Homo sapiens: one gene and its partners. The protein of the gene in region 2 purifies or fractionates together with the protein of the main gene of each other region. This does not show direct contact. Each region holds a gene or a part of one and is shown on either strand. Other genes may lie near its edges. The genes, in order: MARCHF8, ORAI3 and CRACR2A.

Region 1 (3,651 bases), on a different chromosome or scaffold from region 2:
GACTGTTTATAAATATATAAAATACCACTTTTATTTTCTGTGTAGCTTACTTTAAATATAAGTTGATCATTGAATTACCTTCTTACTTATCACCTTTCAGGAATCCTGGGATACAGATCATTTCTTTCAGGATCCCTTTATCAAGGAGGACAGGGCAGAAAATTGAAAAATGTATTTTTTGGACAATCTTGCAATTTGGGTTCCAGACATGTAGAAGAATTCCAGATAATTCATGTAAAGACTCCACCTTCAAGGAGGGGGAGCACAACTCCCCATTCTTTAAAGTGGGCTATGCCTAGTGACTTCCTTCCAAAGAATGAAGTACAAAAGGGGAGAAAAAGAGTAACTTTATAGTGGAGAGACCTGATAGTCACTATATCAGCCAGGTGGTCAAGAAAATCAGTCATAAATCATGTTGATAGTATACTCGATCTGTTGTGATGAACTGGTACATTGTATCTGTGGACTTCCATCCCAAAACCTATAACCCTAGTCTAGTCATGAGAAAAATATCAGACAATTCCCATAGAAGGACATTCCACAAAATACCTGATCAGTATTCTTCAAAACTGTCAAGGTAATCTAAAACAAGGGAAGTCTGAGAAACTGTCATAGCCAAGAGGAGCCTAAGGAGATACAACAACAAAATGTAATATGCTACATCCTAGAGATGAGATCCTGGAACACAAAAAGGACATTAGTTAAAAAGTAGGGAAATCTGAATAAAGCATGGACTTTAAAACTATAATGTATTCATATTAGTTCACTAACTATGATGAATGCAGCACACTATTTTAAGATGTTAATAATATGAGAAACTGGAAGCTTGGTTCAAGATGGCTAACTAGATGCAGCTAGTACATGCCTCTTCCATGGAAAGCTCCAAAACGGCGAGTAGATATTCACCCTTCAAATAGGTCATCTAAAACAGAACACTGGAATTCAACTGAAAAGCAACAGGAATCACTGATCACAAAGGAGAAGGAAGCAAGGCACGTGCTCAGCCAGGATTGCTGAGAGATGAAAGAAGCTTCTAGATGCTGGGAAAGGGTAGATGAGAGACTCCCAGGGCTCCACATTCCCACCATGGACTTTTGCAACGCTAGCTGTGGGAGACCCCCTTGACCCTCGCAGGTCTCCAGCCTAATAGAGTGAGTTGCCTGGAGATTGACAGAGGCATTGCTCAAACTCACATGGGAGTACACAGGCTTCCGAGCCCTGAGCAGCTGCTGCTACCAGCCAACAAGCCAGGCTGAAGAGAGGAGGCCAGGCACTTTTACACAACCACTGTGCTTCTTGTACAGTCTGCAGAATAGTGAGCCAAATAAAATCTCTTATTTATAAATTACCCAGCCTTGGGCATTCCTTTATAGCACAAGAGGGGACTTCAACACCCCACTGACAGCACTAGACAGACCACTGAGACAGAAAAAAAAAGAAAAAAAAAACCCCACTGGATTTAAATTGGACTGTAGAACAAATAGACCTAACAGATGTTTATATAACAAGCTACCCAACAATCACAGAATATACATTCTTCTTATTAGCATGTGGAACATTTTCCAAGACAGACCTTATCTTAAGGAATGAAGCAAGTCTCAATAAATTTTTAAAAAACTGAAATCATTTCAAGTTGTCTTCTCAGACTACAGTGGAAAAAACCTAAAGTCAATTCCAAGAAGGACTCTCAAATCTATACAAATACATGGAAATTAACCTGCTCTTGAATGATTTTTGGGTCAGTGATGAAATTAAGATGGAAGTTTAAAAATTTTTTAAACAAAAGTAGAGACACAACATACCAAAACCTCTGGAATACAGCAAAAGCTTATAGTGTTGACTGTAAATGGATTCAAGAAAGAAAAGTTTATAGCGTTAAATGCCTAAATCGAAAAAAATAGAAAGACCACAAGTTAACCTGACATAGTACCTCAAGGAACTAGAAAAACAAGAACAAACCAAACCCAGAAGAAAAGAAATGATGAAGAGCAGAACTAAATGAAATCCAGATCATAAAAACCCAAAAGATAAAGAAACAAAAAGTTGCTTCACTGAAAAGATAAACAAAATTGACAGCCTACTAGCTACATTAACCAAGAAGAAAGAAAATTCAAATAAGCACAATCAGAAATGAAAAAGACACTACAAATGATACCACAGAAATACAAAAGATCATCAGAGTCTACCATGAACATCTCTACACTAACGAACTAGAAAACCTAGATGAAACAGGTAAATTCCTAAAGACACACAACCTCTCAAGAATGAACTAAGAAAGAGAAAGCCTGAAGAGACCAATAACCAGTAAGACTTAACCAGTAATAAAAATAAAAAAAAATCTCCCAACAACAAAAAACCCCAGAAGCAGATGAATTCACAGCCAAATTCTACCAGACATAGAAGAATAGGTACCAATCCTATTGACAACACTGTTCCCCCAAATTGAAGAAAATCCTCTCTAACTGAAGCCAGTATCACCCTAACACCAAATCCAAGCAAGGACACACAAAAACAGAAACAGAATCAATCAGTACCCCTAATGAACACAGATGCAAAAACGCTCAAGAAAATACTAGCAAACCAAATCCAACAGCACATCAAAAAACATGGTACACCACAATCAAGTGGGTTATATTCCAGGGATACAAGTAGGGTTTAACATACAAAAATCAATAAATGTGATCTGCCACATAAACAGGATTAAAAACAAAAACCATATTATCTCGATAGATACAGAAAAAGCATTTGATAAAATTCAGCATTCTTTCATGATAAAAACCACTCAACAACTTGGTGTAGTAGGAACATACCTCAAAATAATAAAACCCATATACAAGAATCCCACAGCCAACATCATACTGAATGGGGAAAGGTTGAAAGCATTCCCCTTAAGAAATGGAAGAAGACAAGGATCCCCACTCTTACCACTCCTACTCAACACAGTACTAAAAGTCCTATCGGGCCAGAGCAGTAATGCAATAGAAAGAAAGAAAAGACATCTAAATTGTAAAAGAGGAAGTTAAACTATCTCTGTTTGCTGATATAATTTTATACCTGGAAAACCCTAAGACTCCTCCAAAACACTCGTAAATTTGATAAATTAATTCAGTAGAGTTTCAGGATACAAAATCGACCTACAAAATCAGTAGTATTTCTTTTGTTTAGTTGGGGTTTGTTTCTTTGTTTGTTTTTGAAACGGTCTCACTCTGTTACCCAGGCTGGAGCACAGTGGCGCAGTCATAGCTTAGCGCAGCCTCGACCTCCTGGGCTCAAGTGATCCTCCCACCTCAGCATCCCAAGTCGCTGGGACTTACAGGCACGTGCCACCACACCCAGCTAATTTTTGTATTTTTTGTTGTGAGGAGGAATCAGTAGCATTTCTATACAACAATGATATAATCAAGCTGAGAACCAAATCAAGAACCAAACCAAGAAGTCAATCCCATTTACAATAGCTACAAAAAAATAATAAAATACTCAGAAATACACTCAACCAAGGATGTGAAAGATCTCTACAAGAAAAACTACAAAACGCTGACGAAAGAAATCACATATGACACAAACATGATCATGGGTTAGAAGAATCAGTATCATTAAAATGACCATACTACTCAAAGAAATCTGCAGATGCAATTCCTATAAAAATACTAA
Region 2 (3,522 bases):
ATGCCACTGTACTCCAGCCTGGGCGACAGTGCAAGACAGAGCGAGACTCGGTCTCAAAAAAAAAAAAAAAAAAAGAGTGCTTATACTAAACACTCAGGGAGGGCTGGGTGTGGTGGCTCATGCCTGTAATCCCAGCACTTCGGGAGGCCAGACAGGTGGATCACCTGAGGTCAGAAGTTTGAGACCAGCTTGGCCAACATGGCGAAACCCCGTCTCTAATAAAAATATAAAAATTAGCCGGGTGTGGCGGCACACACTTGTAATCCCAGCTACTCTGGTGGCTGAGGCAGGAGAATTGCTTGAACTTGGGAGACGGAGGTTACAGTGAGCTGAGATCGCACCACTGCACTCCAGCCTGGGCAACACAAGACTCCGTCTCTAAATAAATAAATACTCAGTGGAAGAGATAGAGACTCTGAACTCAGGGACAAGAGTTCAAAGCCTGTAGCCTTGGAATAACTCTCCCCATTCAGAAGCTGTTGGCCCTTGTTAGCATCTGACAGGGTTACACCTGAAACCCACTCCCCTCCCAGGTCCTGTCCACCCAAACTTGCCACCACCCGGCTCTTGGGAACAAGTAAAGTTATCCTAAGAAGGCCTGCCCTGCATCCCCTTCACAGCAACAGGGACATCTGTGAAACACGATTTATTATATAAAACAAGGTGCATCCAAATTCAGTGTCAGAAGAGCTTTGTATTTCAAGGGCTAAGGACTGGACCTTCTCCCTTAAAACCTCCTTACCCAACCCTTGCTAAGGACTCAGGCCTGGGGCAGAGGCTGTCAGTCTCTAAAGACCCCAGCCCTGGACCAGGACGGGGAGAACAAGTTTGGTGCATAGCGTGGGGCTAGGGCAGTGGGTCAGGCACCATCCCTTCTGCAAGTGGCCACAGGTCACCACAGTGGGGGAAGGTGGGGAGCTTGAACCTCCAAAGATAGGTTCATTGTAGGAAAAGCTAGACCAATGCCTTGGGTAGAAACACCCAAATCCCTCTACAACAACTAAAGCAAGAATGTGGAACCCATCGAAATCTTCCCCCAAAATGCCAACCATAAAATAGATTCTACAGAAATAAAGAAAGGAATCCCAGCACTTTGGGAGGCCGAGGCGGGAGGTTCACTTGAGCCCAGGAGTTTGAGACCAGCCTGGGAACAGCGAAACCCCGTCTCTACAAAAAAATTAGTCGGGTGTGGCAGCACACACCTGTAGTACCAGCTACTCACTACCTGGGAGGCTGTGGTGGGAGCATCTTTTGAGCCTGGAAGGTCGAGGCTACAGTGAGCTGTGACTGTATCACTACACTCCAGCCTGGGAAACAGACTGTCTCAAAAAAAAAAAAAAATTAAACCAACAATTGGCTGCCTTCTGACCTTCACATCCTGTATAGGAATGGAAATGGTGGCTAAAGTCAGCACTGAAGGTCCCACAAGCTCTCCCTGCCTCCCCTCTATCTACTGCATGATCCTTCAACTGAGGCCAGCCCAGGTGCAGAGTAGCTTGCAAAACCCAAGGGACAGACTGATGGGGAAAATCCCTGGGAATGTGGGAGCTGCCCCAAGGCCCAGCCCAGAGGACCCTGCGGGCAGGAATCTGAACTCTGCCTGAGAGTGGCCACTGGAAGTGGCTCCAGCCAGGGGATGGGGGGATGAGGTCTGTAGGCCCCTGCGGCCTCTTACAGACCCCGGAGGGAGGCAGTGCTTGCAGTGAGCGGTGGCTAACACCAGTCTCACACAGCCTGCAGCTCCCCCTGCAGGCGATTCAGTTCCTCTAGTTCCTGCTTGTAGCGGTCTGTCTTGTGTGCCACCAAGGAGCGGTAGAAATGCAGGGCAAAGGCCACAAACACGAGCCCCACGGGTACCATGATGGCTGTGGAGGCCATGGCTGCTTGCCAGCCTGGCCCATGGGCCCCACCACCACCACAGGCTTGCCGGGGTGGGCAGGCTGGCTCAGCTTGGGACGGTGCTGCAGACGCAGAGGACCGTGGGAGATTGGAAGCTGGACTAAGGGAGGTAGCCACTGGTGCCAGAGTCCCGGGCACCCGGGATGTGGGCACCATGGGGGTCGGTGTGTCCAAGGGAGCCCCAATGGGCACAAACTTGACCCAACCAACCAGGACAACTTCAGCAAGGAAGAGAAAGGTGCCCAGGGCAGTGGAGAAGCCCCAGGCCAGCTCCACGTAGCGGTGCAGTCTCTGGTGTGGCGACTGGTGGACAGAGTTGAGGTTGTGGATGTTGCTCACAGCTTCAATGTGGGGCAGCAGACACGTGGAGACCATGAGTGCAAAGAGGTGCACAGCCACCAGCACGGTGGTGCAGGCACTGAAGGCCACCAGCAGGCCTGGTGGGTACTCGTGGTCACTCTCCAGCTGCACCTCCACCATGGCCACCTGCAGGGACAAGAGGGGATGTACTGATCTCCCCATAACCTCAACTGTAGAGATTTTTTCCGCCTATCGGGATACATCACTGATACATATCCCTAGGACCTAGAACTGTGCCTGGCAGAAACCAGAGACATTCAGTCTCTGTTGAGTAAACGAATGGACAGCTTTGCAAAGGCTCTGTTCTGTTCTGGTTTCCCCACCTCCCTATCAAGAGGGCTGGATGGCCGGGCGCGGCGGTTCATGCCTATAATCCCAGCACTTTGGGAGGCCAAAGTGTGTGGATCACCTGAGGTCAGGAGTTTGAGACCAACCTGGCCAACATGGCGAAACCCCGTCTCTACTAAAAGTACAAAAATTAGCCGGGCATCGTGGCACATGCCTGTAATCCCTGCTACTTGAGAGGCTGAGGCAGGAGAACTGCTTGAACCCAGGAGGCAGAAGTTTGAGTGAGCCGAGATCATGTGACTGCACTCCAGCCTGGGCAACAGAGCAAGACTCTGTCTCAAAAAAAAATTAAAAATAAAAATAAAAAAAAGGGCTGGATGACATGCTTCTAACAGGTTTACTGCATAGGGATCAAACAGCAGATTCTGGAGCTGGGCTGCCTGGGATCATTCTCTGCTCTAGCTGTGTAATCTTGAGCAAGTCAGTTCTCTGTGTGCCTCAATTTCCTATCTGGAAATAGAGATTGATAACAGCACCTCCCTGCCTTATAGGGTTGGTATAAACATTAAATGAAATATACATGAAATGGGCTGGGAGTGGTGGCTCACGCCTTTCATCCCAACACTTTGGGAGGCCGAGTTGGGCGGATCACCTGAGGTCAGGAGTTCAAGACCAGCCTGGCCAACATGGTGAAACCCTGTCTCTACTAAAAATATAAAAATTAGCCGGGCGTGGTGGTGTGCGCCTGTAATCCCGGCTACTCAGGAGCTTGGGAGGCTAAGGCAGGAGAATTGCTTGAACCCAGGAGGCAGAGGTTGCAGTGAGCCGAGATCGCACCACTGCACTCCAGCCTGGGTGACAGTGTGGGACTCTGTCTCAAAAAAAAAAAAAAAAGAAAGATAAGAAAGAAAAGAAAGAAAGAAAAAGAAAGAGGAAAGGAAAGGAAAAGGAAAAGGAAGAAAAAGAAAAAGAACA
Region 3 (3,651 bases), on a different chromosome or scaffold from region 2:
TCCCTCAACCTGAAAAGCATACAAGAAAAAAGGGCTTCAGTTGCTGTACATGCCTGCATGGGAAAGACTCTTGGAAGAGGTTGTGTGGGGTGGGAACAGATGCTCGGGGGAGGTAGTGGAGTTCCCTGAAAGGAAGTTCTTACTATCCCATCTTGATCACTTCCTGGCCATGAAACTTTGGCCAATCATTCAACAAGGCAGCAGACCAAATGCTCCCTCCTGGCCCCTAAATTTCTACAGTGTATGATGGCATTTGACTATCTCTCTGGGAGGCCAAGACGGAGCAGGAATGTGTGTGGATGAGGAGATTCTGGAGGGTCCTTCCAGCCCAGAGGGAACCAAAATCCTTTGGTGCAAGAGAGCACCAGCACTGCTTGATGAGATGGGAAGACTGTGGCCTTGCCCTTGTTCTGCTATTTCACCCAGTCTAGGCAACTTTACCTTGCCTGCAGGCCTTCTGCAGAAGAGGCCCAGCAGATGCCCTCTGTGCCGATTCTCCTGAGTGCCTTATAGGAAGTCACCGCAGGCAGTCTTTCGGCCAACTCGGCATTTCCAACCCACCCCCAATTTCTTATCTCAATTGGGTAGAATTGGTTTAACCATTCCAATCTGGAAAAGAAACTAGTCAGGCTCTAAGGCCCCACGTGTGGCCATGGGACAAACTGGACATCAGAAGACTCTGGGGCCTGTGTCGGGTAGAGAAAATAGAAATTAGAACGCCAGCCTGTACAAGCCTGTATGGGCTGGTATTTCCCCCAGAGCCGGATTGCTGGCCCCCAGTGTCTGCAGTCCTGGGATGCTGAGCTTCTTGTTTAGAGCCTCTTGTCGTTCTGATGGCACTAGATTCCTGGGCATGTGAGTCGAGGAAGTGAAATAGAATTGGCGGAGTTAAGCCGAATAGACCAGTGTTTCCGAGCTGGAAAAAAACGTGGAGATTAATCTAATGCAACCTCTTGTTTTATAAGTAAGAAAAACTATGATCCAAAAAGAGGAAGTGACTTTCCCAAAGGCGCCCACACTTGTCAGCAGCACCACCCGATCTAGAAGCGAGGGCTTTGCCACACTGCACTGCTTCTCTCTTGTCCTGTGGTCCATGGCTGAAATCTGCTCCTGAAAAGCAGGTGTTCATTTACTTTTCAGTCCTTCTTGCTTCTCTCTCAAAGCAGAACAGTTCTTCAGCTCAAGGGGTCCTGGCCCACTTCCCTCTCCCTTCCTGGGCTGCTAGCTAAACCTCATTCTGCGATCTTTGTCATTGGTGACAATGTACAGCATGGTGCAAAAAATAGCAGTTTGATTTTTTTTTCTCCACGTTCCAAGTTGAGCTTGAAGTGCTGGCAGTTTAAAATGAACCACACAAATAAATCTTGTTTTGACTCATAGTCCAGGGGATGGATAAATATGGAAACCCCCAAGATATAATTTTGCAGGCATTTTTTTTCTTAGCATAACTGCATGCTTTAATGTGCTGAAAAAATTTTTGCTCTAGCTCCAGAGAAATAGCAGCACTATCCCAGCTAAGTGCTTTTTCATGCCTCCTAGCAAATAGATATTAAAACGCACGCACACACACACACACACATGCACATAGGCAACAACCAACCAAACCCAGCAGCTGCACATTCTGAGCTGAATGCCAATCCACTGCTCCAAGTTGACAGCTCTTGTTATTTAAAGTCAGAGATGGGTGATCTTTTGAATTTCAACAAGTCTGTCTTCCAACAAGCTCAAGTTCACAGAAAGGCAGCTGAAATAACTGAAGGTGGAGGGAAGGCTCTCTGTTAGAGGGTCATAGAACAGAACCTGGCTTTGGAACAGAGAGACACAGAAAAGAGGAGAGACTCAGATGAGTCACATGGAGAGATGGTGACAGAGCTAGGGCAGAACCCACATCTCCTAAAGAGAGATTGTGTGCCTGATGAAGGAGCTAAGATGACTTCACTCCAACCTGTCATGCTGATGGGATTTTTACCAACATCTCTCACAGTCTCAAGACAACAGAGTTTGAGTAGACCTGAGACCTGTTCACCAAAGCCCTAGGGGCTTGAAGGAGGTGTTGCTTCATCTAGGAGGTAATTTTGAACATCTTGTGCTGAGTGGTATGCAGGCTGAAAACCTAGTTAGGTATGAGAAAGGTGTAAAGTTTAGACAGATAGTTCCAGACTTTTGGGGTCAAAGTCAGAGAGGACCATGAGACACCTACCCCAATACCAGCTCCTCTCCCTGCCCCTGTGCCAGAGACTGATGACCTTGGGCCAGGGTGATGGTGACTGACTGTGATAGTTAGCACACTCCCTGGTCTTATGGGTATTCTCATTTATTTTTGCCAAATATTTGGAGATGAGTCTGTTTCTCCTTTATCGGTGGCAGGCCAGGGTCCCTGCAGGGAAGCCAGTTGTCCAGAGTGGCTGTGTAAGAGAGGAACAATACAAAGAACAGAAACCGCAGCTCCTGCTGAGTGCTTTGCTTTTAAATTTTTTTTTTCTGCTCCTTCTAAGCTCCTTTATTTTTATATCCAGGAATTGCTTTGGTTTTTTTTTTTTTTTTTTTTTTTTTTTTTTTTTGACAGAGTCTCTCTCTGTCACTGAGGCTGGAGTGCAGTGGCACAATCTTGGCTCACTGCAAGCTCCGCCTCCCAGGTTGAAGCAATTCTCTGCCTCAGCCTCCCAAGTAGCTGGGACTACAGGTGCCCACCACCACACCTGGCTAAATTTTGTATTTTTAGTAGAGACAGGGTTTCACCATCTTGGCCAGGCTGGTCTTGAACTCCTGACCTCATGATCCACCCACCTCGGCCTCCCAAAAAAAAAAAAAAAGAAGAAACCTGCCCTTTCTTTTCCCAGGACGCAAGAGGCACCATTGCTGTTTATGGTGCATAGGACCCAGATGTTGGGCTTATGACCCATTCCCTACCCCATCCTATTGGGTCATTCAGTATCCATCATCCCCTCTGCAAGCGAGGAAACAGAAGCCAGTGCCCATTCCAAATAATACCAAAACCTGGGGTAGAATTCTGCCCTGGGATTTCAAGTCTGATGCTCATATTTTCAGAGTTTCCATGTCAAGAAATCCCACAAGCCTTAATCATTCCTCACACATAAATCTACAAATATCTCTCTCCCATGTGCTCTAAACAGCAAGCCGCTTGGCCCATTTCCCTGCTTCCTCCTCCTTTCTTCCCTTTCCGTGAAAAGCTCTTCGCACAAGTATCCCGTGGCACAGCACGGTCAGAGGAGGGGGTGTTCCCATTAGTGAACGCTCTAGCTAATAGGGGGCCACAGGGTTCCATATATGCCATCAGTGGCTTTCTCACTTTCAAGTAGTTGGAATATGTACAATCCACTTAGGACATCAACTGCAGTGTCCAGAATTTAATCTATTTTTGATGGGTCAGAAGACACTGTAAGATCTTGTAGCGCCTTTGAGTCATCATTGCAAACACAAGTTACCATCTGACCAATAGATACCATTTTTAGAGGGTTCCAGTTAATAAGATACTAAGTAGCAGAGACTTGATTGGAAATAAGAATCTAGAGGAAAAGGTTGGAGAAGTGAGGACCCATATACTAAAGAGTTCTCATAATTCAGTGCTTATGGTGTTGAATGTTCTTTTTGATTCTCTGAGCCTTAACTTTCTCATTTGTTAAATAAGAA

What was found.
Region 1: the proteins of ORAI3 (region 2) and MARCHF8 purify together in Homo sapiens (affinity purification with western blotting; one study listed by BioGRID). This does not show direct contact.
Region 3: the proteins of ORAI3 (region 2) and CRACR2A purify together in Homo sapiens (co-immunoprecipitation; one study listed by IntAct). This does not show direct contact.

Annotation. Positions count from the first base shown.
Region 1 is NC_000010.11:45,525,288-45,528,938, forward strand, and holds part of MARCHF8 (E3 ubiquitin-protein ligase MARCHF8), read right to left. Parts: intron 1-3,651. UniProt on the Homo sapiens protein: E3 ubiquitin-protein ligase that plays several important roles in innate immunity and adaptive immunity.
Region 2 is NC_000016.10:30,952,048-30,955,569, reverse strand, and holds the end of ORAI3 (protein orai-3), read right to left. Parts: intron 2,386-3,522; coding exon 1,726-2,385; 3' UTR 632-1,725; downstream 1-631.
Region 3 is NC_000012.12:3,620,559-3,624,209, reverse strand, and holds part of CRACR2A (EF-hand calcium-binding domain-containing protein 4B), read left to right. Parts: intron 1-3,651.